2 linked regions of the Homo sapiens genome follow. The protein of the gene in region 1 purifies or fractionates together with the protein of each later gene. This does not show direct contact. Each region holds a gene or a part of one and is shown on either strand. Other genes may lie near its edges. The genes, in order: IWS1 and SUPT5H.

What was found.
Region 2: the proteins of IWS1 (region 1) and SUPT5H purify together in Homo sapiens (affinity purification with mass spectrometry; 2 studies listed by BioGRID and IntAct, with this or other methods). This does not show direct contact.

The regions. Positions count from the first base shown.
Region 1 is NC_000002.12:127,520,238-127,535,330, forward strand, and holds the start of IWS1 (protein IWS1 homolog), read right to left. Parts: upstream 6,253-15,093; 5' UTR 5,972-6,252; coding exon 5,938-5,971; intron 3,555-5,937; coding exon 3,439-3,554; intron 1-3,438.
Region 2 is NC_000019.10:39,452,265-39,467,494, reverse strand, and holds part of SUPT5H (transcription elongation factor SPT5), read right to left. Parts: intron 14,140-15,230; coding exon 13,974-14,139; intron 9,821-13,973; coding exon 9,755-9,820; intron 9,202-9,754; coding exon 9,190-9,201; intron 8,678-9,189; coding exon 8,608-8,677; intron 8,491-8,607; coding exon 8,422-8,490; intron 8,312-8,421; coding exon 8,246-8,311; intron 7,937-8,245; coding exon 7,906-7,936; intron 7,604-7,905; coding exon 7,535-7,603; intron 2,698-7,534; coding exon 2,446-2,697; intron 1,016-2,445; coding exon 926-1,015; intron 821-925; coding exon 750-820; intron 1-749. UniProt on the Homo sapiens protein: Component of the DRB sensitivity-inducing factor complex (DSIF complex), which regulates mRNA processing and transcription elongation by RNA polymerase II.

The sequences.
Region 1 (15,093 bases):
TACTCACTGCAACCTCCACCTCCCGGGTTCAAGAGATTCTCCTGCCTCAGCCTCCTAGGTAGCTGGGACTACAGGCGCAAACCACCATGCCTGGCTAATTTTTGTATTTTTAGTAGAGACGGGGTTTCACCATGTTGGCCAGGATGGTCTCGATCTCTTGACCTCATGATCCACCCACCTCGGCCTCCCAAAGTGCTGGGATTACAGGCAAGGGCCACCACGCCCGGCCTTTGCACTGCTTCATTTAATGCAACCGTACTCTTTTAACATCCCATTACTTCTAAAAAAAAATGTTTAATGAGAAAACAAAATGTCTTCTTAAAAGCCATTTTAAACAGGCAAAAGAACATTAATACAGAACTCAACACTTATACACAGTACAACTGGCACTCTTGAAGTACTAGTGGTTTAGCAAATTACCATAACCTTCCTGGAGAGGAATTTCTATGAAGAGCCTTAAAATGTCTTAGTCTCTAATCTCGTTAATTCTCCTGGCAGCTTTCTAAGGAAACAATAAAAAATGATCACAAATGTTTATGTACAAAAATCTTCAGGGCAGCTTCAGTTATTTAATACAATAGCTAAACAGCATAAATGACAACAATTAGAAAATTGCTGAATAAGTGATGCTGCATCCATATTGTGAAACCATTAAACATTACGCTTATTGAGAATCTTTAATGACGTGGGGAAACACTTAAAAGTATCATCTTAAGTGAAGAGATAAAAAATAATACATAGGCTGGGCACAGTGGCTCACACCTGTAATTCCAGCACTTTGGGAGGCCAAGGCCGGTGGATTACAAGGTCAGGAGTTTGAGACCAGCCTGGCCAACATGGTGAAACCCTGTCTCTACTAAAAATACTAAAAATTAGGCGTGGTAGCGCACTGTAATCCCAGCTACTCTGGAGGCTGAGGCAGGAGAATTGCTTGAACCTGGGAGGCGGAGGTTGCAGTGAGCCAAGATCATGCCACTGCACTCCAGCCTGGGACAGAGTGAGACTCTGTCTCAAAATATATACATAGAAAGACACAAAATATATATAATAACATCTCAAGTAAAGTTAAAATATATAGACGTCATATACCTGGGACAGAATGAAACTGCAGGATAAATAATGTGAAAAGGCTCATAGTCATTTCTGTAGTTGGACTATGCTGGTTTTAATTTTTTTCTTTAAACTTCACAGATGCAGGAGTGCCTCAACTTATTATGGGGTTACAGCCTGATACACCCATAGTAAGCTGAAAATATAATTAAGCCAAAAACGCATTTCATACATCTAATCTACCAAACATCACAGCTTAGCCTAGCCTACCTTAGATGTGCTCCAAACACTTACAGAGGTAAGACCTACGGTTGGACAAAATCACCCAACACAAAACCTATTTTATAATAGAATGTTGAGTATCTCATGTAATTTACTGAATACAGTGAAAAAACAGAACGGTTGTATGGGTACTCAAAGTATACATACAGCACTTGCAACATCGCAAAGTTGAAAATTTTTAAGTCAAATTATAGTTTAAGTCTGGGACAGTCTGTGATTTCCAAATTTTCAAAAACAGCCACACTTATTTATTTAGAATCCATATTATAAAAAAACAAAGATGCTTAGGGTAACCTGAACTTGTAACTGCACCATGAGGCCATGAGATGACTACCCTACTGGGCTCTAAACTGACCATGATTAATCTCTGAATGCTGTTTCCAAAGAGGAAACTTAAAATATCATGCACTAAATGCACTGGCTGTAACAACATATACATTATTAAGTAACTTCCAACTATCAATTAAAATATTGGAATTTATTCTGAATGTTTAAAAGCACAGAAAAAACCTGAGTGACATCAAAATATATAAAAGATGAGCCTTTTCCACACCCGCATTTAGTTCTCTGACCTCCCCTACCCCTTAATGACCCCATTTCAGTTCCACTGGCTCCTTGAAGATATCAAGCACACTCTCACCTTGGGGTCTTTGCCAGGGATGTTCTTCCCCTAAACGTCCATATCCACACGGCTATTCCTTTGCCTCCCTTCACACCTTGGTTCAAATGTCACTTTCTTAATAAAAGACCTATATGGTCCCTATTTAACACCAAAGCCTGCCCTCCATCCTTTGTTCTAATTATCTGTTTTCTTCACAGCATTTGTTATCTTCTAGCAGACTACACAATTAAAAAAAAATGTTTATTGCTTAATGTCTTTCTCCTCCTACTGGAAAAACAAACCTAAGAAGAGAAGGATTTTAACTTCTAGTCACTGATAAGTCCAAAGCACCTGCAAAAAGTCTGACACATATTAGGTGCTCAATAAATACCTGTTGAATGTATGATATGCTAATGTTGCTGTCAAAGGACAGAGTCAATATAATCTCTAATCACACCTACTAAAAATTGGACAATTTTCTGCATATGTGTAATCAAGAAAAATATAAGGCATAGAAAGTTCTTAAATCTTTGCATCTTTATCATTCCTATTTGTTTCAGTCGTATCTACCAAAGACTTACGGCGAACTTATTGAAAAATTTCCCAATTTTATCTTGTTAACATGATGTATAAACAGAAAGGAAAATAAAGCAGTTCTGAAATATTTATGTATTAGAGCAAATACGTTAAAATGTACACAAAACCCAATACTATTACATATTATTAAACAAAAACAGCTCTTAAAATTATATTTGCAGGCCAGGTGTGGTGGCTCACGCCTGTAATCCTAGCACTTTGAGAGGCTGAGGTGGGCAGATCACTTGAGGTCAGGAGTTTGAGATCAGCCTGGCCAACATGGTGAAACCCCATCTCTACCAAGAAAACAAAAATAGCTGGACGTGGTGGCCTGTGCCTGTAGTCCCAGCTACTCGGGAGGCTATGAGGTGGGAGGATAGCTTGAGCCCAGAGGCAGAGGCTGCAGTGAGCCGAGGTCTCACCACTGTACTCCAGCCTGTGTTACAGAGTCAGACCCTGTCTCAAAAAAAAAAGCATTATTATTACATACATTATATACACCGTAACAGTTCAAAATCAGAAGGGCAAATGCTGACATAAATGTTGACAGGTGATAACCCCCATAACTTTCTATTTCAAGTGGTGTTTCTTCAGATTGCAAATGCTCAATGCCCCACTATGACATTATTGCAGAATAGGGAAACTTAGTCAAATATCAAAGGCCGGGCCCATTTTCTGAATCAATATGCACAGTTGAAAACTGCCTAACATTTGAAATGTGACCCAATCAGAACATATTTCACTGTGATTTCAACAGTAACCAGACCATCCCTATTTATTTTTCAAGCGGTTTTCTATTAACTTATGCTCCTTTACTCTCAGAGATTAAACCCTAAACTCTGTCACAGAGATTCTGTAACTCCTATAATATAACAGATCTCACAGAACGCAAGGGAAAAGCCCTCCCAAAGATGTTGGTTAGCCAATACCTCTGAATGACGTTCTACACTTCCAGTGTCTGATCCGGAGTGTTGCTCATTTACATCATCCTCACCGTCTGACCCTGAATCCCGTTCATCCTGTACTGGGGTAGCACCACCATCATCTGATTAAAAACAAAACAAAAACCAACTTATGGTGTAAGATGAATGACATCTACAGTGAAATGAACACACTGAATCAAGAATAACGTAAGTGCAAAAGTTACCACTGAGGAAGCATTAACTAAAGTTGCTAATATTTTGAATAAGGTAATACAATACTCATACAAACACCAACAAGCATAACATGTACTGTGAAATACGTGGCAGCAAAACTACACCATAAAAACAATTTGTAGCTTAAGAAACAACACTAAACACCAAGTCAACAATTTATTTCAACTTCATGTTAAAATTGGGTCTTTCTCTCCATGGCATTTATCACCTTCTAATATACTACCTGAAGTTATTTTGTTTAACGTGGGTCTTCTTCACCTGAAAGAAAATGCCACAAGAATAGGGATTTTGGTTCACTGCTAAATCTCTGGAGCCCAGAACACTGCCTAGTACCTGATATACAGTAAGTATTTGTTTACAAATGAAGAACACAAGGAACTCCAGTCCAAAACTAGTGAAAATCCATTCAAGAAAAGCATATATAAAATGGTAAATACAAACTGTTACCTAACTTTCTTTTATATTTTTGTAGAGATGGGGTCTTGCTATGTTGCCCAGGCTGGTCTCAAACTCCTGGCCTCAAGCAATCCTCCTGCCTTTGCCTCCTAAAGTGCTGGGATTACACCCAGCCCCAATACTTTAAAAAATACAGAGTAAAATCGTATTTTAACCTATATACATGTATTACATATAATTACTTTTTTTTTTTTTGGAGACACAGTTTTGCTCTTTTGGCCCAGGCTGGAGTGCAATGGTGTGATCTCAGCTCACTGCAACCTCCACCCCCCCGGGTTCAACAAGTGATTCTCCTGCCTCAGCCTCCTGAGTAGCTGGGATTACAGGTGCCCGCCACCACGCCTGGCTAATTTTTTGTATTTTTAGTAGAGATGGGCTTCACCACGTTGGCCAGGCTGGTCTCAAACTCCTGACCTCAGGTGTTTGCCACCGTGCTCGGTCTACTTTTTAAAAAGTAACTTAAAAACACAAATGAATGGAAAAAAAACTATTCTGAAAGTATCAGGAAAGTGTTTTTTTGTTTTTGTTTTTGTTTTTGTTTTTTTTGAGACAGAGTCTTGCTCTGTCGCCCAGGCTTGGAGTGCAGTGGTGCAACTTCCGCTCACTGCAACCTCTGCCTCCCGGGCTCAGGGCTCAAAGGATCCTCCCACTTCAGCCTCCTGAGTAACTGGGACTACAGGTGTATGCCACCACACTCGGCTAATTTTTGCATTTTTTTGTAGAGACGAAGTAGGGGGGTGGGGTAGGGGCGTAGGGGGGTGGGGTACGGGCATGGGGGGTGGGGGTGGTGTTGGTCTCACTATGTTGCCCAGGCTGGTCTCGAACTCCTGGGCTCAAGCCATCGGCCGCCTACGCCTCCCAAAGTGCTGGGATTACAGGCATAATCCACCGCACCTGGCTTAGGAAAGTGTTTTTAAGCAGTGCATGCCTGGAAAACGCTTTGCAGTCATTAGAATTCACTGTCCTACGTAAGGAAAAGCAATGAACTCAAAACAGTAAAGGGCTTAACGCTTAAACAATTATTTAAGCACTCAAGTTTTCTTTTTAATTTTCAATTTTTGTGGGTACATAGAGGGTGTATTTATTTATGGTGTATTTAAGAACTTTTGTAACAGAACGCCCCAACAGGACTAGCACACAAAGGGAAAGCAAATGCGACGTGTTTCCCACACCAGGTTCTGCCTCACTTATCCTTAATCTCAGGTGCCAAGCACCGTGCCAGCAGAGTGGGCCCCAGTAACAGCTTACAGAATAAACAAACAGTAAAGAAAGGAGACCAAACTTCGGTGAGGAGGAAGAGGAACGATCTCAAGGTGGAGGAAAGGCACAAAAACCACCAGTAAGTGCCAGAAGCGCATTCCTTACTCTATGCATGCAACTGAAACATGGGTCCTGCACTTACGTCCGGTGTTGCAAGCAAGATTAAACCACTCCTAACTAGCAGTGAAAAGTCTAGGAAGGATCCCCCGCCCCAACGCCCCTTGGATTCTCCAACTACTCAACTACTGAAAACTCTCTTAACAGAAGACACCTCTCCTTCCCTGCACACAATAGGAGCTTAACATATGAAAGTGACTTCCCAATTTCAGCAAAAACCTTCGCCGATTCAGAAGAAAGCTTTCCCACCAGAATCCCCTCTCCAACGTTCTAGCTTCGACGCTTGCAGCTGGTCAGAGGGCTCTTGCCCTCCTCGGGCCGGGTCGCGGGAGGGAAGGTTTCGGGGGGCCTCCTTGCCCCCACCCGCGGGGTGCCAGGCCAAGCCCCGCCGAGTAACTGCTCCGCCTCCCAGCCCGGTCCCCCAGGTCCCTGCCCCACCTGACTGGTCGCCGCTGTAATATTCCGAGTCCATGGCAGGCGGACTCTCAGCGGGGAGTGTCCGCGCCCCGCGCCGCCCCCGTCACCTCCTTCCAGGCGGTGTGACCCCGGATGGCGCGGCTAAGTGTTCAGAGACTGCCGCCCGACCGGAGAACTTAACGGGTGCGGAGGGTAAGAAAGCGGTAGCGGCAAAGGCGAATTCTTTGACCTGGAAGCCCCGGCGGAAAAGGCCGTACCCGGCAGGCTGGCGGGCGGGCAGGCATGCGAGCCGGCGTTCTACTTCCTAGAAGCACCGCTGGGGCCAAAATGGCGTCTGCCCACGACCCTCAAAGGAATGCAGCGCGCAGGCGCCGCAACCCGTCAACCGGCCAATGAGAAGACGCAACAGCAATGACGCCAGGCACGGCCGGAAAGGAGACTCCTGGGAAAATTGAGCTGGAACTCGGGCTTTAGTTAAATACCTTCCTCGGGTGGATCCTGGTCTGACCCCCGTGGTAATAACGTTATCATTGATTCTTTATCATTTCCTAGATTCTGTGTCCGTGCCTTGTTTGAAGAGCTTTTGAGATACTCTTCCGAAAAATGAAGACCTGCTCAAATGACTTTTCCGTCATTCAGCCAAACCACTGTCTTTCCCGTCAGGCCCAGAGGCGCCTGGTTCCCGCCCGCAGTAGGCAAGAAAGCGGGCGTTGCTCACTGGGACTTGTAGTATGACGCCCGCGAGCTGTGATGCGTTACTAACTGGCGCGATCCACAGCGCCTCCTCTCCCGGCGTCTTCCTCTCTTTCATTCTAAACAACGATTTAATTTCCTTGTTAAGAAGCCATTTAGCCAACAGTAAGAAGTACACGTCTTTGCTTCCAGAAGGGTTCCCCTGATGAAACACCGGAGGAAGGTGAAGTTGAACTTTACCTGAGCCCTGTGTTCCTGGAAAACAGCGGTGATTAAGAAACCCCCTCATCTATTTGTGTTTCTGGAACGGCACACTGTAAAGAACCACCCGTCTCCATGTGACTCAGATAAAACGCGTGCAGATGACCCCCTTGTTTGCCTGTGACAAGGCCAGAGACCTTTCCCCTTTATTCTGAGCCTGTTAATAAAGCCAAACAGACCTTCCAAATTCCCGCTGATGATATCGAGTGATTAGTTGAGATTAGAACTCTCCTCCCCCCAACTTGTTAGACACAGAGAACATTTCCTGTTCACCTGACTGAAACTTCTCCTGATTGCAAAACAATCCCAACTGTCAATCATCCCACCTTCCTCCCTATAAAAGTCAAAACTACGCTGCCAAGACACTGATCATATCTGGAGTGCTCTCCCTATTGCAATAGGCTGAGTAAAATCCATTTCCTTACTTGTTCATTTTAGTCTTGGACAGAGAGGGGAACATTCTTGCCTTTGGATCGGAGGAGGGCCAGTAGAGGTTTAAGCAAAGACTCCCCAGGAGGTGTAGACATGTAGAAAAAGAGCCTTTTGTTACTACTGCAGATATCTGACCCTTCGTTAGCCAGTCAGAGTATGCTGGCAGAGCCCAATTATAGGCTCCTGAAGAGGACGTGGGAAGAGAAGAAAGGGGAGAAGTGGTTTCTCTCTGGAAATTCCCATTTTCCTGCAAGAGAGTTCATGGATATTCCTTTCCGAAGTGGTGGAAACAGCATTGAATCCAAATTCCTTCTTTTCAGCTGTGGGAATGACATCTTCTCAGGCAGTCTTGAGAATCAAAAGAACAAAGAATTAGCAATGCCCGAAACCGAATCACTTGATAGAAGATATCAAGGCTCTAAGCCCTCTTCTAAAGAGAAGGTGAGAGTACACCTGTGTAAATGGAGCAGGATTAATAGATCAAAATTCCAGGCGGAGGTTCAGTGGAAGAGAACCTTTTAGTTTCACCAGAGATGTAAGTCCAACAGTCAGGAAAGTGGTTGGGTTATAAACAATGCAATTGCCGGATGAAAATTACTGAATTTTAGCGTTAAAACTAACTGTACTGGTGGTTTGGAGAAAGGATAGAAACACTCTGGACACACAACAATGTTCTTAGCTCTAGAAGCCTGCAAAGAAGCATCAGATCTAATTTTTGTACTCAGAAAGCCAACAATTTAGTGAGACAGGACAAGTCTTTCAAATGAATACAGAGCCTTAGTTAAAGCAGTGTGGTTGTCAGTGTAAACACAGCTTACGGAGAGTTCCCAGAGCTCCTTCCTACCAGCTGGCTGTCCCTCCTGGATCCTGGTAGAGAAATTCTGTAGTGGCACAGATGTGTCTTTCTGAGTCTTGGCTGCCTTACATTTTCAGGACTGCCATCTCCTTACCCATCACACCCCACCCCAGTACAGTTGGCCCATGGCGGTGGTAGGGAGGCACCCAGAAGATAGGCTGTTTCCCACACCAAGGGTGCTAATGACAGAAGAATGGAGAGGCAAACTTGCAGCAGTCCACAATGCTTCCTCCCTTAACAGATAACCCAGAGACGCTGCATTCCCTAAGTGAATGTAAGATTTATTTGGAGACACTCTGAAGACACTGCCATCTGCTGAACATGTCAGGGAGCAAGAGGCCGCATAATATAAATAGCCTGGCACCATCAGAGCTGTAGACTGGGGGCTTAGAGCCCTAGGCTGTGGGCCTATCGCTGGGCTTATTGTACTTAGTAAGCTGGGACAAGCTACCAGCCTTCTATGAGCCTCAGTTTCCACATGTATCAAATGAGAGGGTTGAATCAGGTTTCAAGTACTCTTAGCTTTTTTCTACGTCAGAGAATCCAGGTCTCTAAGTCTGACCCAGCTTCTTGTGCTTGAGCCACTAGCAAGCCCTACCAGGGAAGACACAAATGAAACTTACTAGCTGCGTGACCTTGAGCAAGTTGCTGAACCTCTCTGTGCTTCAACGTCCTCATCTATAAGTTGGGGATAACAGTACCATTTATGTCACAGAGTTGTCATGAAGCTAAATGCACATATATAATTATAATGTATAATATGTTATATATATTACTTGTATAATATTATACATGATATAAATATATATATTATATAATGATTCCTGGGACAGAATATTGTGAAATTAAATAATTCAAACTTTTTTTTTTTTTTTGAAATGGGATCTCGCTCTGTCACCCAGGCTGGAGTGCAGTGGCACAATCTTGGTTCGCTGCAACCTTCGCCTCTTGGGTTCACGCAATTCTCGTGCTTCAGCCTCCCTAGTAGCTGGGACTACAGGTGTGCACCACCACGCCTGGCTATTTTTTGTATTTTTAGTAGAGATGGGGTTTCACCATGTTGGCCAGGCTGGTCTTGAACTCCTGGCCTCAGGTGATCCACCCACCTCGGTCTCCCAAAGTGCTAGGATTACAGACGTGAACCACTGCACCCAGCCAAATAATTCAAACTTAAAGCTGTTGGAACTTAAATTGTTCTGAGTCTTGAGAGGAATGTGACTATGCAGCCTGAGTCACATGGCATGCAGCTGCAACTTCTGCCTTTTTTCCACCTATAAATAATTGAGACTAAGTGGTGCCAGAGATAAAACCCCCTCAGATCACTGCCCCTTCTACAGAGTAATAATGTCATCTTCCTTGGGATGCAGCAATCTGTAACCAATCAAATCACTGTAACATATGCACTGTCTTGTATGGAAAATGTTATAATCCTGCTAAAATTTTTCTGTCTGTCTCTGTATAAGTAAAACCTTAACTTCTTCACTTTGGAACGCTGAACCCATTCGTTTGGAGTTGAGGTCTCCTGGGTGGCTATCCGCACACTCAAATAAACTCTATGTGTAATCATATTTTATGCATCTTACTATTTAAGATTAGCAATATATATGTTAGCTATTATCATTATTATTAGGCATTGTGAAGATACAGAAAATTAACACATGATTCCTACCTTGAGAAGCTTACAATTCATTAGGAAGTACGGCTTTGAAAAAAGAAAATGCTAAGAGGTGAATTGTGTGATGTGGGTAACAAGTACCATGGGAATTAAAAGGAGGGTGAGGCTAGAGTGAACAATCAGGTTGGCTTCCTTGGGGGAGGGTGCTTGAGGTGATATTTGAAGGACAAAGGCCGATTTGGATGGAAAGATAATGTTTCAATCATGGTAAGCTAACAATCTACCATGTAGTTATGTTGTTATAACAACATCAACAAATTTCAGTGGCTTGACTTGATAATAGTTTGTTTCTTCCTCTTGTCAATGGGCAGTGGGGTCAGTGGTGAGGTGGAGGTTGCTCTCTGCTCCTAGCAGTCATTCAGGGATCCAGGCTCTTACCATATTGTGGCTCCACCATTTCCCAGGGCCTCAGAAGCCCCTACTGGATGCTCTGCATGCCACCAGCAGATGGGAGAAGAGAGTGTGTAGAAAGGTGCAGGATATTTTAGTGGGTCTAGCCTGGAGTTAGAGCATATCACTTACCCTCATTCCATGGCCCCTTCTAATTGTGAGTGAGGCAGGGAAGAGTATGTCCACTGTGGGACCAAGAGGAAAAGGAAAGTGATCTTGGTGGATATGCAGCATTCCAGGCAAGGTTAAGAAATCCACCCCAGTACTTCTTTTCCCAGAAATAAAGTTCTCAGCAATGAGCCTAAGAGCTAGGCAAAGTATCACTATCTTCCAAGAGCTAGGCAAAGTATTACTATCGTCATAATTAGCATCATTAACTTCATTTATTTAGTTTATTGAGTTGACACGTAAGCAAGTTTTGCTTTTCCTTGTCAGTATCTCAATCTCCCCCAGGGCAATAAGATTAGTCATCAGGATATGCCATTAACCCTGGTCATGGGACAGAGGTCCCATGTTTATGGCCAGTGACCTAGGTTTAAATGCTAGGGCCTAAGACAGATTTATCCACTGGATTGCCCAAAGCCCTCTAGAGAGGAGGAGGTGACCTTTTCATTTTGTGCCCCTACTTTCCCCCTCTTGCTGCCTTGGACAAATCTCTGGGTAGTTTCCTCAGAGGGCTTATGGTGACAAAAGCACCACCAGAAATGAGTCCTTTCCTCCTGGGCTGAGACTGTGGATGCCTAGCTGGCCCATCAGGACTTTGGATCCAAGACCTTCCCAGTCTAGGAGCAGCTATCTTGAAGCTGCTGTTCCCGGAGGATGAAGTACTTGAGTTTGCCTGATGACACAGTCATCTCCTTGGCATGTCAGAACCAAGATCCTCCAGGAAGCACTCATCTTCCATGCACCCTCCCTCTGAGCCATATCTTCCTGCCATTGAAGGAGCCCAAGGGTCAGGGTCACCTCTTCCGGGAGGACATTCGTTCTGGTCTTTGTTGGCCTCCTCTTTCTCCCAGCCTCCAATGGCACCTGGGCCTGTGAACTATATATTGGTTCCCAACTGGGACTTTGTCCCCCAGAGACATTTGGCAATAATATCTGAAGACATTTTGATTTGTCACCACTAGGGGTGGGGACATAACCAATGGCTGCTGCTAAATGTTCTGCAGTACACAGGACAACGCCTCTCATTCCCCAACAAAGAACAATCTACTCCAAAACGCTAATAATGCCAAGACTGAGAAACCCTGAACTACAGGACAGAATGTGCCCTGTGATCTACTGTCTTGTACTGTGCACAACTGTGTTTCCAGGGAAGCATTTAAGCGTTGCTTCTCTTCCCAGATATTCCCTTGCCCCAGCATCTCAGAAACCAAGGCAACAAAATGGGCAAGGCCTTTCAAACCCTGGGCTAGGGCCAGCAAGTTGGGGAAACACCTTTTTTTTTTTTAAATCTCTGAAGATAGGATGTCTCATGCATCACTGGGGTGAGGAAGGAGGAGGTCTGGTTTGTCTGAGGGTTGGCGTGGTATAATACATCCCAATAAGCCCAGGCCATGGGGTCAGGTACACCCTAATTCAAACCGCACCTCTGCCACTTTTGGTTGTGTGGCCTAAGCAAGTTTCATAACCTCTTTGACTTTAACTTCCTTGCTATGAAATGAGGAGAAGCACCCCTCATTTGTTGAGGTTTGATGAGGGTTGAGTGAGATGGTACAAGCAAAGAGCCCAGCACAGAGAAAATCCTTATCACATGCCAGCTCTTTCTGAGACTGAGAATTCAAAAATGTTCTAAAGAGTAGTTCAGTCGCAGAGGTCTGTGCTGCCAACCTTGCTGTTTCATAGGGTTAATGGATAATTTGGCTGCTGTAGCCTAGATGGGAATATTAGGGCCACCATAAGCAAGTGACTTCAGTTAGCTCTATGATATGCTGGTAGAGCTGAAGCGAAAGGCTTGCTCTGTGTCAGTCGCTGTGATGACGCTATAATGGGCTTGGTCACTGACAGGAATGGAATGAACCATAGGTTGTCCATGGGCGCATTTCAGCTCAGCTCACAAACATGTTTTTCAAGGTTAGCTGAATATTTGCGTCTTGGGAAATGAGCACTACGCTAATTGTGGAAGTAGCACTGGGCTGGGAGACAGCCAAGCCTGGTCGCCCGTGTTACCAGGAAGAGCCTGCCCTGCCTTTCCCCAACCCATCTTCTTGATTTCCAGGGCTTGGGGTCCCTTGGCTATGGAAAGCCTGAGGCTCCAGGAGAACCATGCCTCAGGGTGTCCCCCTTTGCACCAACTCACACAGCAATCAGACCAGGTCCTTGCAATCATAGGCGCAGTTTTGACTGGGAGGGAGGACTTGGCATGCCACTTGAGAAATATTAGCAACCAAAAATTCATGCCCACTGTTCTTCCATAGTGGAAGATCTTCTTCCAGAGATCCCACTGGAATCTTCCATAATGACAAAATGCAAACAACGCTGAGAGCACAGATATGTTCATTGCAGTATTGTGTGTGACAGCAAAGGATTGGGTACCTCCCAGGGTCCATCCAGGGAGGATGGGTATACAAATGATGGGGCACTTGTGTGACATACTGTCACGCTGTTTCTAAAGACCAATGGTAAAAGTTTGGTACAGTGTCAGAAAGTTCTTGTGATATAATGTGTAACATAAAATAGAGAGAGACAGAGAATAGCAGGTCAGTATCTAAAATGTGTTTCTGTCAAATTTTGCATAAGGTGAGAACTGGATGGGAACATCTTACAGATTGTTTTGGTCCACACAGATTTTCTGTCCCAATATTTTCTTACATGAGGGCAGTAGAAAAGGTCCGAAGAGGACTCAGTCTCAGCCCCAGAGCAAGGGGTTCACCATCTCTGGGAGCTGCCAGGAGCAGCAGCGTCAGCCCTAGAGGAGCTAAATGGTATCTTTCTAAACCCGAGAAACCATGTGCAGCATGAAGCTCAAAAAGGCTGAGTGTGGACCCAGAAACCGAACCAAATTTTAGGGAGCAGGAGGCTAGTCAGAGCAAGGGCAGAACTTGGGGGGCTGTTCTAGGGGGAACAGGCGGGACAGGGGGCCGCCTGAAAGACTCGGAACATGCAGCTCCCTCCAAGTGGTCCTTCAAGGGATCTCCCAGCTTGGTTCCCTGTCTTTGGGATGGGCCATTTGGTTTTAAGATACAGAAACTCCTTCAAGCCATGTCAACAAAGAGAACATTTAATAGACGGAAACTGGGGACTCCATGGAGCCCACCCACAGGAGGCACAGGAAACCCTGAGGCATCGGGGGTCTCCTCCTGTCTCTGGAGCCACTGGGTCTCCACCTCTGCAGCTTGTCCACCTCTCCTTTTCTCTCCCACCACCGCTTGGTCTGTGTCCCCACGAAAGGTCCATGTTCAGGGTTGCCACCCTGCCTTGACCTCAGTTCTAAAAGACGATGGCTCATTCCCACATTTCTGCCTGCAGTTCCCAAGTCCCTCCAAGTCCAAGGAAAAGAAAGGAATCTGATTGGCTCTAGTTGGGCCAACTGTAAGGATGACCAGACCCCTTTTTTACCCAACACAAGGCCTGTGGCTGACCAGGTAACTACCTGCCCCTATTATCCACCCGCCTTCAAAGCCTTGCATAAATGAGCTCCCCTCGCCCTCCTGCTCACTTCCAGGGACTGCCTGGCCCCTCCAGTCTGACCCCACCCAGGGCCCACTGCGGTTGCACTTCCCTTCTAAACAGTCTGTATTTGCCTTAAGCCCAAATCCCCCTTGATCAAGTGCCAGCCCAAGCCTGCCCAATTTGTTGCCAGGTACCCTCCTGGGAACCTTGTTGTCTGATGGCCTTTGTCTCTAAGGCTTCCTGATGGCCCCAGACATGTCCCAGGTGTATGCTCCTTTCACACTCAACACAGAACACTCTCTTGACCAGGTGTCCAAGCAGTTCTCCAGCAGACTCCGTCTGGATGTCCTATAATTCAATTCAATCAGACACTGTCAACCTGGAGTCATAGATCCCACAGGTTAAGGGCTCAGTCCCACAAAACTGCCCCACTTCAAATGCAGTCTCAAGTCCTAGGTTGCCACCTATACTTCTGACCAATTGGCTATAAATCGGGGTTCCCATGCCCCACACCTGAGGTTGGATTTGCTAGCATAGCTCATGGAACTCAGGACGGCACTCATATTGACCAGTTCGTGGGAAAAGATTTTACAAAGGATTACAGATGAGCAGCCGAATAAACACGCACAGGTGAGTTGTGTGGGAAGGTCATGGAGCTTCCATGCCCTCTCCCGCATGCCACCCCCCAGGGACCTCAGATGTGTGGAAGCTTGTCAAATCTTGTTCAAGAGTTTTACCTTCCCAGAGGTCAGTAGGCGGGGCTGAAAGTTCCAACCCTCTATTCACTAGGTCTTTCTGGTGACTGACCCCATGCTGAGGCTAGGTAGGGCCCCCACATGGTCACCTCCTCAGCATAACTTCAGGTGTTATCAAACGGACTCATTATGAGATGATCACTTGGGAAATTTTTTGTTTGTTTGTTTGTTTGAGACGGAGTCTCGCTCTGTCACCCAGGCTGGAGTGCAGTGGCCCGATCTTGGCTCACTGCAAGCTCCACCTCCCCGGTTCACGCCATTCTCCTTCCTCAACCTCCAGCTGGGACTACAGGCGCCCGCCACCACGCCCAGCTAATTTTTTTGTGTGTGTGTTTTTAGTAGAGATGGGGTTTCACCGTGTTAGCCAGGATGGTCTTGATCTCCTGACCTTGTGATCCGCCTGCCTCGGCCTCCCAAAATGCTGGGATTACAGGCGTGAGCCACCATGCCCGACGATCACTTTGGAAATTCTAAGGGTTTTAGGAGTTCTGTGACACCAACCG
Region 2 (15,230 bases), on another chromosome or scaffold:
GGATCACACTTACTACGTGCCAAGGGCATTCTGAGTACATATGCATACTAATTTATTTAATTCTCACTATAATCTATAATCTGAGGAAGCAGAGGTTGTTTTCTTTTTTTTTGAGACGGAGTCTCGCTCTGTCACCCAGGCTGGAGTGCAGTGGCACGATCTCGGCTCACTGCAATTTCTGCCTCGTGGGTTTAAGCGATTCTCCTGCCTCAGCCTCCCAAGTAGCTTGGATTACAGGAGCTGACCACAACCCTTGGCTAATTTTTGTATTTTTAGTAGAGACAAGGTTTCACCATGTTGGCCAGGCTGGTCTTGAACTCCTGACCTCAAGTGATCCGCCCGCCTCGGCCTCCCAAAGCGCTGGGATTATAGGTGTGAGCCATCACGCCCAGCCTCATCAATCTTTTTAAATATTTTTTTAACTTTTTTCTTTTTATTATTATTATTATTTTAAAAGATGGGATCTCATTATGTTGCCCAGGCTGGTCTCGAACTCCTTGCCTCAAGCAAGCCTCCTGCCTTAGCCTTCCAAAGTGCTCCCTCCCGCTGCGCCCAGCCTCATCAATCTTTATAGCAGAAGAAACTGAGGCACAGGGATGTGAAGTGACTTGCCTGAGGCTATACTGCCAAGCTAACCAATTCACAGGCTAAACCTGTGGCGGGGCCACCCCTGGGGAGGAACCTGCAAAAGGCACATTCTACACACCGGCCCTGGGGACCCAGCCCAGCCAGTCCCCAAGGACACGCACCTGATCTTCTCAGCATCAAACAGCCTCTGTGGAGGCCGCTTAAACTTCTTCCTTTTGGCAAACCAGTCTTTCTATGGAGGAAAGGGGCATGGGTGGGAAGGGTGAGGGAGGGGGCTTGGCCACCAGTGGGATCGAGCACACTCCCTCCCCCCCAGGCCACAGATTCCCCTGAGTACCAAGCTCATGCGGGCCTTGATGCGATCGTAGTCGATGCGTGGGATCATCTTCAGGGAGATGGTGTTCTGGCTGGGCTCCACGTAGTCCACCTGAGCAGGGCGAGCAGAAGGTCAGCAGGGCCCCACTCTCCTCCCTGACCCCAGACACAAGAAGGGTCAGGAGATGCTAGGAAGGAGAAGGGACGCAGGATGGTGGGGAAGAAACCAGGCTGCTGACCACTCCCAAAAGTCCCACGCTAGCTTGTCTGTCCCCTCAACTCTGGCACTGAGTAGCCACTGCCTGCTTGGTATCTCCACCTGGATGTCTAAAGGTCCCTCAAATCCAGGACGACCGCAGCCAAACCGCTGATTCCCCCAAACCTGCCGCCTCCCACTCCATTCTTCCCTCTGCTCAGGCACACAACCTGGGAGCCACTCTTGACTCCTTTGTTTCTCTTACACCCACACCCGACCCGTTGGCAAATTCCATCAGCTCTGCCTTCAAAATACCTGACCTCTTCCCCTCCTCCACTGCAGTCTCAGCATTCCAAATCCAAAAACCCAAAATGCTCAAAAATAGGAAACCCTGTGAGCACCAACATGATGCTCGAAGGAAATGCTCACTCTTGGATTTTCAGATTTGGGATGCTCAACCGGTAAGTATAATGCAAATATTCCAAAAGCTGAAAAAATCTGAAATCTGAAAAACACCTGTGGTCTCAAGAATTCAGGTTAGAGACACTCAACGTGTATTAGGGTCTTGGTCCTATCCCACCAGCACTGCCATCTGGGTGGGATGTGCTACAGCAGCAGCCTCCTCCCTGGTCTCCACGCTCTTGCCCATGGCCCCCTCCAGGCTATTCCCGGGTTTCTCAGCCTTGGCACTATTGACTTTTTGGGCCAGGTAATTTTTTGTTGTGGGCAGCCATCCTGTGCATTGGAGGATGTGTGTGTCTAGCATTTCTGGCTTTAACCTGCTAGATGCCATAATCGTCAACCCCCTCCCCAGCTGACATAACCAAAAATGTCTCCAGACGTTACCAAATGTCCCCTGGGGAAACATCACCCTGGCTTGAGAACCAGTGGTCTAGTCTCAACACAGTCACCAGAGAAATCTTATTAACATTGAAGTCTGCCTGTGTCCCTTACAGCCCTCCCATCCTACGCCAGTAAACACCAAAGCTCTCCAATGGGCCGCAGGCCCTCGTGAGCTCCCTAACTCATCTCACGCCATCCCTGCTGTAGCCAGTGACTGTGCCATCCTATCTCACAGGCCACTCCTGCTGCCTACAACACTCCTCCCCAAGAGCTCCACATGCCTCACGCCCTCCGATCCTTCAGACCTTTACTCAACACGCCTGGGAATGTGCACAGAAGACAGCCAACCGTTTCCTGTGTGCTCACAAAACCCAGGCTCTGCTTCAACTCATCTGAGTGGGATTCTATTCTCTGCAGCACAAAGAGGGTGGGAAGGACAAAAGGAAAGGAAGGGAGAACAGAATGGAGGGACCCTGACCCCCATGCCACCCCGCCCCGGGCACCTGAGCAATGTCATCCTTGTAGATGCCCCGCTTGAGGCGGACCCAGGACTTTGGTTTCAGGTTGGCCACCTCCTTCACCACTTTGAGCACGTCTGTCATCTCCTTGATGGGCACCATCTGCTGGTTCCAGTAGCCAAGCCGCAGGTTGCCCACCCCCTCAATGGCCTGCTTCACGTGGGTCTGCTTGTAGGCCTCCACGTAGATGTAGCCCTTCACATGCTCTGGTGCCACTACTGACTTGATCTGCAGGGGCTGCAGGGTGAGCCGGTGGAAGGAGGAAACAGTGAGACACAACGGCTAATAACAGAAATGACTGCCACTCATCAGCAGTCCCTCTTCTAGGAATTTATTCCACAGAAACACACTGGCACAATGACATGGACACAAAGGTGTTCCCTGCAGAATTATTTATCACAGCAAACAAACCAGACTAAAAATTTTAAAAATATCCAGAAACAGTAACTAGTTAACTTATGGCTTAATGTACCATGAAATACAATGTTGCAGTTAAAGAATACAAAAACTAGCTGGGTGTGATGGCACATGCCTGTAGTCCCAGCTACTCAGGAGGCTGAGCAGGGAGGACTGCTTGAGCCCGGGAGGTTGAGGCTGCAGTGAGCTGAGATCGCACCACTGCACTCCAGCCTGGGCAACAGAGTGAAACCCTGTCTCTTAAAAATAAAAAATAAAATAAAAATTAGATTAACCTGTATGTACTAATATAGAAAGCTATCCAACATATGTTCTGTGTAAAAAAGCAACTAGAGCCGGGCACGGTGGCTCATGCTTGTAATCCCAGCACTTTGGGAGGCCGAGGCGGGTGGATCACTTGGGGTCAAGAGTTCAAGACCAGCCTGACCAACACGGAGAAACCCTGTCTCTACTAAAAATATCCAAGATTAGCCGGGTGTGGTGGCACATGCCTGTCATCCCAGCTACACGGGAGGCTGAGGCAGAAGAGTCGCTTGAACCCGGGAGGTGGAGGTTGCGGTAAGCTGAGATCGCACCATTGCACTCCAGTCTGGGCAATAAGAGCAAAACTCCGTCTCAAAAAAAAAAAAAAAGCAACTAGAAGAAGAACCAAGAAAGGAGTGCTTACATCAGACAAAATATACTTTAAGACAAAAATTGCTACCAGAGACAACAAAAAACATTTTGTAACAATAAAAAGGTCAATCCATCAGGAAGATAGAATTACAAATGTATATGAAACTAACAGAGCCTCAAAATACATGAAGCAGAAACTAATGAAAATGAAGGAAGAAACTGACAACTCAACAGTAACAATCACTGACTGCAATACCCTGCTTTCAATCATGGATAGAGCTAGACCCAAGATCAACAAGGAAAGAGAACACTTGAGCAACACTGTAAGCCACCTAAACCTAATAGCCAGCTATAGACAGAACATTTCGTCTTCACTTTCCACTTATTAAGCGGAAATGGGAAAAAAGAACACTCCATCTAACAACAGCAGAATGCACTTTCTTCTCAAGGGCATATTAAACTTTCCAGAATAAACCACAGGTTAGGCCATAAAACACGTCTCAGTAAACATAAAAGAACTAAAATCATATAAAGTATATTCTCCATCCATATGTAATGAAGTTAAAAACCAACAGAAAGATACTTAGGAAATTCACAAATACATGGCAACACACTCCTAGATACCAAAACTTATGAGATTTGAAAAAAGCCATGCTTAGAAGTAAATGTATAGCTGTAAATACCAACTAAAAGAAAAAAAAGGCCAGGAGCGGTGGCTCATGCCTGTAATCCCAGCACTTTGGGAGGCCGAGGCAGGAGGATCACTTGAGGTCGGGAGTTCAATACCAGCCTGGCCAACATGGTGAAACCTTGCCTCTACTAAAAATACAAAAATTAAGGCCGGTTGGCCAGGCGCAGTGGGTTCATGCCTGTAATCCCAGCACTTTGGGAGGCTGAGGGGTGGATCATCTGAGGTCAGGAGTTCAAGGTCAGCCTGGCCAACATGGTGAAACCCCATCTCTACTAAAAATACCAAAAAAAAAAAAAAAAAAAAAATTAGCTGGGCATGGTGGTGGGTGCCTGTAATCCCAGCTACTTGGGAGGCTGAGGCAGGAGAATCGCTTGAACCCGGGAGGTGCAGGTTGCGGTGAGCCGAGATCGCATCATTGCACTCCAGCCTGGGCAACGGTGCGAGACTCTGTCTCAAAAAAAAAAAAAAAAAAGAAAATTAAGGCTGGGCACAGTGGCTCACGCCTGTAATCCCAACACTTTGGGAGGCCGAGGTGGGCCGATCACCTGAGGTCAGGAGTTCGAGACCAGCCTGGCCAACATGCTGAAACCCTATCTCTACTAAAAACACAAAAATTAGCCAGGCGTGGTGTCGGGTGCCTGTAATCCCAGCTACTTGGGAGATTGAGACAGGAGAATCAGTTGAGCCTGGGAGGCAGTGGTTGCAGTGGGCCAAGACTGCACCATTACATTCTAGCCTGGGCAAGAAGAGTAAAACTCCATCTCAAAAAAACAAACAAAAAAATGAAGTCTTGATATATGCTACAATATGGATGAGTCTTGAAAACATTAAGTGAAGCAAGTCAGTCACGAAAGGCGACATATTGTATGATTCCCTTTGTATGAACCATTCAGAGTTCCAATAGTCAAATCCACAGAGAAAGAAGGTAGATTCATAGTTACCAGGAGCTGTGAGGAGGGAGGAATGGGGAGTGATGACTAATGGGTATCGGTTTATTTTTGGGATAATGAAAATGTCCTGGAATTAGATGGTGATGATGGTTATGAATACACTACAATATATAAAATCCACCACAGTTTACACTTTAAAAAAATTAAATTTTAGGCTGGGCACAGTGGCTCAGAACTGCCATCCCAGCACTTTGGGAGGCCAAGGCGGGTGGATCACTTGAGCCAGGAGTTCAAGACCAGGCTGGCCAACATGGTGAAACCCCGTCTCTATTAAAAATACAAAAAAATCAGCCGGGCATGGTGGCGGATGCCTATAATCCCAGCTACTCGGGAGGCTGAGGCAGAGGTTGCAGTGAGCCGAGACCACACCATTGCACTCCAGCCTGGGCAACAAGAGTGAAACTCCGTCTCAAAAAAAAATAATAATCAGAGACATAACTCAAATGAAGTAACTAGAATTTTACCCCAGGGTACCATGTAGGAGGATTTGAGCACACTTCTTTTAATTATTATTATTATTATTTTTTTTTTTTTTTTTTTGAGACAGTCTCGCTCTGTTGCCCAGGCTGGAGTGCAGTGGCACGAGCTTGGCTCACTACAACCTCCAACTCCTGGGTTCAAGCAATTCTCCTGTCTCAGCCTCCCAAGTAGCTGGGATTATAGACATGCACCACCACCCCTGGCTAATCTTTTGTATTTTTGGTAGAGACGGAGTTTCACCATGCTGGTGAAGCTGGTCTCGAACTCTTAACCTCAGGTGATCCACACGCCTCAGTCTCCCAAAGTGCTGGGATTACAGGCGTGAGCCACCGCGCCCGGCCTATTATTATTTTCTTTGTAGAAATCAGTTGTCACTATGTCACTATGATGTCCAGGCTGGCCTCGAACTCCTTTTGCCTCAGCCTCCCAAAATACTGGTATTACAGACATTAGCCACCACACCTAGCCAAAAGGTACCTTTTCAACCTCCCTGTTGGGGAATCATACCCCACAAATCCCAATCTCACCCATGACAGGCAGGGACACTTATTACTATAATAATGAGGAAGACATTCCACCCCCTACCCACCCCGAGACGGAGTCTCACTCTGTCGCCCAGGCTGGAGTGCAATAGCGCAGTCTTGGCTCACTGTAACCTCTGCCTCCTAGATTCAAGTGATTCTCCTGCCTCAGCCTCCCAAGTAGCTGGGATTACAGTCAAGCACCACCATGCCCAGCTGATTTTTGTATTTTTGGTAGGGACAAGGTTTCACCATGTTGGCCAGGCTGGTCTCAAACTGGCTGGTTTCGAACTCCTAACCTCGTGATCCACCCACCTCAGCCTCCCTAAGTGCTGGAGATTCAGGCATGAGCCACCATGGCCGGCCTTTGAGGAGGACATTTGAGCACATTTAAAAGCATAGTTTGCAAACCCTACAACTGTCTACTTGGTCCCACTGGGTCACACCCAGTGGCTGGACAGGTGAAAGCATGATCCCTAGCAGGGATCATGTTAACTGAGAAAGTTACCAGCCAGCACCCTTCATAGCGTTTGCCCTGGTTCCCAAACTGCCAATGAAGCCTTTGACAACAGCTCTGCTAAGTAAATGCAAGCTGCAGAACAAGTCCTAGCTGAGAGCTGGACATAAAGCCACCTAATCCTTTTTTTTGTCACACTGGAGTGCAGTGATGCGATCTCGGCTCACCGCAACTTCTGCCTCCTGGGTTCAAGTGATTCTGCCTCAGCTTCCCAAGTAGCTGGGACTACAGGTGTGCACCACCACGCCCAGCTGAGTTTTGTATTTTTAGTAGAGACGGGGTTTCACCACGTTGGCCAGGCTGGTCTCAAACTCCTGACCTCAAGTGATCTGCCTGCCTCAGCCTTCCAGAGTGCTGGTATTACAGGTGAATGCCACTGCACCCAGCCAAAAGCCACTTAATCCTAATGATGCTGAGAGGCAACCAAGGGGCCCAGAGAGGGGAAGTAGGTGCATCAGAGTCACACAGCTAAGAAGTGGCAAGGGCAGGACTCAAACTCTGTCAGTCTAAAGAAAGACCTGGGCCTTGGATGCAGCATTTGCTGCCTGGCATGTGGTGAAGTGGGTGACCCCAGCCCAACAGGGCTGGTGAACAGGCAAACCCACTCTCATGAAGAAAAGGTGCAGGAAGCTAGCTGGCTGACTTCCAAAGGGCTACAAGGGTGGGAAGACCCTGCCATAAATGCAGAGAACAAAGACAACATATCCATCTAGGCCGAGAAGAGCCCTTCCATCTAGGCAGTGGTCTTATTCCAGCTCAAGCAGCTCACTCAGCAGGCAGCTCTGCTCACAACAGAGGCACCTGGTACCCCTGAAGTTGACAATGTTCTTCCCTCTGGGTGTTGCCATGTCTCCCCACCAAGCCGCCTGTCTACCCGACTTACCGTGTCTGTGAACTGGTAGGCAATGAACTTGCGCATCAAGGAAATGGCCGTGGCCCGTTCCTCCCCAATCTGGAAGATGAGAGGCAGATTTGAGAGAGATGACAGGATGGAGGAAAGGACACAGGAAAGGGGGAAGGAGACAGCAGCAAGAAAAATAAAGTAGGACCAAGAGAGGAGAGAGAAAGAAGGATGGACAGCCAGGAAGATGGAGGTGGGAGATAGCCAGTCAGTAACGTGGAGTGAGGGATGGAGACAGAAGGACCAAGTGACTGGCAGGCCACGGAGACCCGGGACAGACAGACACTTCTCCCCCACAAAGCAGCCTCCCTCATTCTCCCACCTCCTCCAAGCCCCGAGATCAGAGCACATACCTTACATTTGACAGTCCACAGATTGGGATCCCTAAGCAGCAGAGGAAAAGGAAGGCCTTCAGTGAAGCTGGATCTTCAGTAACAAACAGACGAACCCCCAGGGCCACCCCCTTCCTCTGGTTTCACATCCAGGTTCCCTCACACTCACTGACTTCCCCACGCTTCTACCCAGGAGCAAGAGGAAAGAGAAAGTGCCACCTTGCCCTCCCTACCCCTGCCATCCACCACACTGCCTGTGTGACTCTGCCCTGACTTATTTCAGGGAGCCACCTGTCTAGGCACCATCACCCCATACAAGATTCGCACCCCAGCACGGCCCCCACCATCCCAACCCCCTTACTTGACTCCTGGGAGCAGCTGCTGCTGGGTGATGTCGTCTGAGAGCTCATCAGATCCTCCATACACCCTGAAGGGAGGAGGGCAGTCAGGAAGGGGTGAAGCTCTGTCAGATCCCCGCCCCTTCCCGCTTAGGGACCACCTGCTCCCTGCCCCCACCTGCCCCCACCATGCCCTTACGTCTCTCCCACAGATGACTTGGCGTATTTCTTCATGTAATACTCGCCCAGTTCTTCTTCTCGCTGGTCCCTGGAGCACGAGTGGGGAAGCAAACACGAATTGAAGGTTGAGGACAGCAGGTGGGCTGACCTACTCCCAAATCTCCCCACAGGAGCCAATCCCACCACGTTTCCCTTCCTTGCCCACCTCCAGAGGTTTTGCAGGCGGCGAGCCCCAGAACGATCTTCATCCAGGACAACATTATCGATATTGGAGGCTGAAAAATAATGGGCAGAGGGCGTGAGCAAGGGCAGGTGGAGGGCAGGGGCCTGGAGAAAATAGGAGCGTGCAGCTAAGAGGGCCAGGGTTTGGCCCTGGGGCAGGAAGATGACATCTCACAGAGGAAATCCCAACCCCTCATCCCCTACTCTGTCCTACTCAGCATCCTGCTTCTTGTCAAAAAGACTGGGGATGGGGCCCAGCAAGTTGGGGGGCTTCCAGCTGTTCCCATCTCAAAGTCCAGGCACACCCTGGACTGCACCCCACCCCACACATCGCTACCACCCACAAATGCTCAGTCCCAGACAGACACATCCGTGCTTTCCCAGGTCAACAACTGGGGTATACCTGGCCCCAGAACTCCCTGACTCTGGATCCTACATGGGTCAGAGCCCTCAGGGCCAGACCGGGGCTGGTGGGGAGGCTACCGGTGAGGGCAGGTGCCTCAGGAAGGAGGAAATGTCAGGATATGGGAGGAAGGTCAGGGAATCACACTTTTCATATTCTTACCTTCAATCTCTTCTACTTGGAGGAAGAGGAGGTGGTGGTGGTGGTGGTGGTGGTGGTGGTGGTGGTGGTGGTGGGCGAGGGCAGACAAAGTATGAGCCAAATTATAGCAGCAAAATCAACCAATGGGTTGGGGGAGGGGAAGGGAGGGACACAGAAAGGTTGAAAACCAAAAGTAAAGGCCAGGCACCAGGTGGTTGGGGAGAAGCCGAAATGTATGAGGCGCACAGAACGGAAAATAACGGGGAAAGGGGGGCACTGGCCCAGGAAGTGGGGGGTATCTTGGGACAGAGCTCGCCCACCCTACAACCCCAGAAGGGATTCACTGGGCCCTGGGATCCCAGAGTCCTCTCCCCACAACATCCCCACCCCAGGGCCCCACCCCCCACTCATGGGCCTAAAAGGAAAAAGCAGGGAGCTGGTCTCTCTGGGAAGGACAGAAAGAAGCAAGGTGAGGACGGTGGGAGTTGGGGTGTACAGGGGATGCGGGGGTCGGGGGAATGGGCTCTGAAGACCCTCTCAGCCACCCTCTTCCCAGTAGTCTTGTGGAGGCAGGGCTCACACACACCTTTCTCTAGAATGTCCTCTGCTCCATCCTCCCACTGGTCCTCGTCCTCATACTCATCGTCAACATCTAAAACGGAAAGGCCAAGTGGTAAGTGGCAAAGGTGACCTCATAACAGCTCCCAGGACACGAAGCATCTCCTCTGGGAGATGTGCACTACAAATCCCCACCGCACAGAGCAGGACACTGAGGCTCCAACAGGGAGGCACTCGTCTGGGGCCGTGCCACAGAGCTGGTGCACGCATCAGGATCGAGGGGGACATACAGCTCCAACTAACTCTAAAAGTCATCCCCTCTCCTTACTCCACTCCCAAATCCCTTTTAAAAAACTAAGATCAAAGTAAGCAAAAAGAAAAGTTCCCTCCCAACTATCAGAAAATGATCAATAAATAGTTTTTTAAAAGATGGTTCATGGTCTGTTGGTTTTATGATTCTTGTACATTTATAACAGCTAATGCTGAGAGCATACTATACACCCTGCCCTGTTCTGAGTACCTGACACAGGTTCCTCACTGATCTTCCTGGCAACCCCGAGGGAGGCACTATCGTTGTTCCTATTTTACAGCAAAGGCTCTGAGACCCAGAGAGATTAAGGAACTTGCCCACAGACTCAGCTGGGATCTGAGAGAGGCAGTCTGGCTCCATGGTCCATGTACTTAATCTCTTTACCATGTTGGATGTACTGCTTTGCAGGTATCAAACATTACACTAAAAACGTAATACATGCACATAATGAAAAACTCCAATGTCCATAGAGGATGTAAGTATCAATTAAGTCTCCCTCACATTTCTAACCCCTAGAATCTCAGTAACCTCTCCCAAAGGCAACTCCGTGACTAGTTTCTTGCCTAGAGATATCTGTGTACATATATGAAATCCATGTAAGGCTGGACGTGGTGGCTCACACCTGTAATCTCAACACTTTGGGAGGCCGAAGTGGGAAGATCACTTGAGCCCAGGAGTTTGAAACCGGCCTGGGCAACATAGTGAGACCTCCTAAATCCAAAAACTTAAAAAATTAGTTAGGGTTGGGCACGGTGGCTCATGCCTGTAATCCCAGCACTTTGGGAGGCCGAGGCGGGTGGATCATGAGGACAGGAGCTCATGATCAGCCTGGCCAACATGGTGAAACCCCCGTCTCTACTAAAAATACAAAAAATTAGTCAGGTATGGTGGTGGGCGCCTGTAATCCCAGCTACTCGGGAGGCTGAGGCAGAGAATTGCTTGAACCCGGGAGGTGGAGGTTGCAGTGAGCCAAGATCACACCACTGCACTCCAGCCTGGGCAACAGAGGGAAACTCCGTCTCAAAAACAACAACAACAACAACAACAACAAAAAAAAACAGTCTAGTCAGGCCTGGTGATGCACACCTGTGGTCCCAGCTACTCAGGAGGCTGAGGTGAGAGGATCACTTGGACCTGGGAGGTAGAGGCTGCAGTGAGCCATGATCATGCCACTGAACTCCAGCCTAGGAAACGGAGTGAGATCCTGTCTTTAAAAAAAAAAAGAAAAAAGAAAAAAAAAAGGTCTGGGCACAATGGCTCATGCTTATAATCCCCGCACTTTGGGAGGCCGAGATGGGTGGACCACCTGAGGTCAGGAGTTCGAGACCAGCCTGGCCAACATGGTGAAACCCCGTCTCTACTAAAAACACAAAAATTAGTGGCACACGCCTATAATCCCAGCTACTCGGGAAGCTGAGACAGGAGAATCCCTTGAATCCGGGAGGCAGAGGTTGCAGTGAGCCGAGATCACACCACTGCACTCCAGGGTGGGCAAGAGAAACTCCGTCTTAAAAAAAAAAAAAAAAAAAAAAAGAAGAGGCGGGGCGCAGTGGTTCACGCCTGTAATCCCAGTACTTTGGGAGGCCAAGGTGGGTGGATCATGAGGTCAGGAGTTCGAGACCAGCCTGGCCAACATGGTGAAACCCTGTCTCTACTAAAAATACAAAAATTAGCTGGGCGTAGTGGCAGGCACCTGTAATCCCAGCTACTCGGGAAGCTGAGGCAGGAGAAGCACTTGAAACCAGAAGGTGGAGGTTGCAGTGAGCTGAGATTGCACCACTGCACCCCAGCCTGGGTGAAAAAGCGAAACTCCATCTCAAAAAAAAAAAAAGAAGAAAAGAAAAGAAATGCATGTAATCCACCCCGCCACCACTATGTTCCCCCCATGTAATTTTTTTTGTTTAGACCGAGTCTTGCTCTGTCACCCAAGCTAGAGTGCAGCAATCTCGGCTCACTGCAACCTCCACCTCCCGGGTTCAAGCAATTCTCCTGCCTCAGCCTCCCAAGTAGCTGGGATTACAGGCGCCCGCCACCACGCCCAGCTAATTTTTGTATTTTTAGTAGAGACAGGGTTTCGCCATCTTGGCCAGGCTGGTCTCGAACTCCTAACCTCAGATGATCCACCCGCCTCAGCCTCCTAAAGTGCTGGGATTACAAGCATGAGCCACCACGCCCAGCCCCCACGTAATTTTTTTAACACACCGTTCTGTACCTTTCTTTTTCTCAAAACTACTACTAACTCAGAGCTCTCCCACAGCAGCACATGCCTCATATACTATATGGCCCATAATTTGTTTAACCAGGCCCTAATCATCAATAAACATTTAGGTCACCAAACTTTTGCAACTGCGAACAGGACTACAACAAGCATCTTTGTTCTCAGGTCTTCATGCACTCATGCAAGTTTAACCATAAAGTAAATTCTAAAGAGGAACTGCTTGGTCAAAGGGTTCCTGCATGTTAAATGCTAACAGGCACTGCCACACAGCCTTCCACACAGGCAGTGCCCACCAACACTTCCACCACCAACATATGGGTGTCCCTGGGAACCCACAGCTTTTACCCAGCATGGTATCCATTCTCTTGCTCTCCAAGAACATCCAGAGCACCTCCTGTCCCTTTGACAATAAACTACTTTTCTTCTCAGGTAAAACAGTCCCAGGAAAACAGAGGCAGGATGTGTTCTAAGTAACCCCTCTTCCCATAGGTAAGGGAAAACATGCACATTCATTATCATCATGGAAGTATGAACTAGTCTTATCTTTTTAGGAACTGATATTTGGCCGTAAATATAAAAAATCTTTTTTTAAAAAAAGTGCGGCCAGGCATGGTGGCTCACGCCCGTAATCTCAGCACTTTGGGAGGCCAGGGCGGGCGGATCACAAGGTCAGGAGTTCGAGACCATCCTAACACAGTGAAACCCTGTCTCTACTAAAAATATAAAAAATTAGCCAGGCATGGTGGCACGTGCCCGTAGTCCCAGCTACTCAGGAGGCTGAGGCAGGAGAAACAGTTGAACCCAGGAGGGAGAGGTTGCAGTGAGCCATCGCACCACTGCACTCCAGCCTGAGCGAGACTCCGTCTCAAAAAAAAAAAAAAAAACAACGACAACAACAAAATGCACCACCTTTACCTAGCAATTTGACTAACAGGGATTTAACACGTAGAACAGAGATTTTTCATCTGGGGTGGTCTGTGTTCGATGAAAAAACTACAGCTCCTATTTTCAGTAACCTGGAATTGAAATTTAGCATTTACATCAATTACATACAATGGCAACAAACCACACAATGTTAGCTGTGTCACTGGCTCTTTCACAGCACATTACAGCTATAGGTATCTCAAGGCAGCATTTACACTCACTGCTACTTGAAAATTAGATTCTCAGACTACCTACAAAGTCTTATTACCTAAATATGTTAACAAAGAAACATATGCACCAAAATGTTCTTTTTAAATATTCTGATAACTGTACTTCAATAAATTGTCCTCTTTGGAATCCTATGTATTTTGTTTTATGCATTTCAGAAGATGATTCTGAGAAGGGAACAGGGTTTCACCAGACTACAGAAGGGGCCGTAGCACGAGAAAAGTTAAGAACTTTGGTCCTTCACGCCTGTAATCCCAGCATTTTGGGAGGCCAAGGCGGGCAGATCACGAGGTCAGGAGATTGAGACCACCCTGGCTAACAAGGTGAAACCCCGTCTCCACTAAAAAATAGAAAAAATTAGCCGGGCGTGGTGGCGGGCGCCTGTAGTCCCAGCTATTCAGGAGGCTGAGGCAGGAGAATGGCATGAACTTGCAGTGAGCCAAGTTCATGCTACTGCACTCCAGCCTGGGCGACAGAGCGAGACTCCGCCTCAAAAAAAGAAAAAGAAATGGAACTAAAAGTAGAAGCTCAGCCTCTGCTCGGCACTGGCCAAGCACTATGACATACCAGCCTCGTCCAGAATGAAGCCTCCATGGCGGGGTTTCTTGGGGGGTCGGTCATCATCTTCTTCCTCCTCTTCCTCATCGTATTCCTCCTCCTCTTCCTCCTCCTCTTCGTCCTCAGGCTCTTCTTCTTTCTCACTGCCCGCTGCACTCCGCCGCTCTTCGTCTACCTACAGGGGTCAGGCAGGGTTGTAGCACCAGAATTCTGCTACCCCAAAAATCCAAAAACCAAGTTCCTCACCCTAAATCTGACCTCAGATTGGCCTGGCCAATCATAGCCCACTTTGCTCTGCATATATCCCTTTCACTCTAGCCTGGCCTCTCTGGTTACCATCCTATCTCAGCGACAGCACTGCCATCTCCCCAGCCACCCAAGCAACCCTGGGAGTTGACCCGGGCTTCTCCCTGCACTAGACCTCTTGCTCACTTTCCACCGAGTCTTTAACTATAATAGCTTGATGAAGCTTGGTCCTTGGGCCTCATTTCTTTCTCTCTCTTTTTTTTTTTTTTTTTGAGACAGAGTCCCACTCTGTCTCCCAGGCTAGAGTGCCATGGCAGAATCTTGGCTCACTGCAACCTCCACCTCCTGGGTTCAAGCAATTCTCTTGCCTCAGCCTCCTGAGTAGCTGAGATTACAGGTGTGCGCCACCACACCTGGCTAATTTTTGTATTTTTTTAGTAGACACGTGGCTTCACCATGTTGGCCAGGCTGGTCTCGAACTCTTGACCTCAGGTGATCCATCCGCCTCTGCCTCCGAAAATGCTGGGATTACAGGTGTGAGCCACAGCACCTGGCCCATCTCTTCCCATTCTACAACTCCCCAAGGCCATCTCGTCCTCTCCCTTGGCGGTGGTGGACATCTCTGTGACAGTGACTCCCATCTCTGTTTCTAGTCCACACTGCTCACGAAGATCACTGGCCACCCCTGTTGCTAATTCTGTGGCCATTCTGTATTCCCTACCATCCCAGCAGCATCTGGCACCCCAACCATGCCCTCCCTGGAGAAATGCTCCTCTCTTGGCTTCTGCCGTATCATGCTCTCCTGGTTTTTCTCAAAACTCCACCAGCTCCTCTTCAAGCTCCTCTTACTGTTAACCCCTTCAAATCTGACATCAATTACCAGGGCTCAGTCCAGGGCCACTTTGTTCTCCCTCCATGCCCTCTCTCCCTGTCCATTTTACTTTCCATGACCTCAGTTCCTGTCTCTAGAGATGACACGTGTCCTCATCTGTCTATAGAGTCCCACTTTTTTCCAGAACT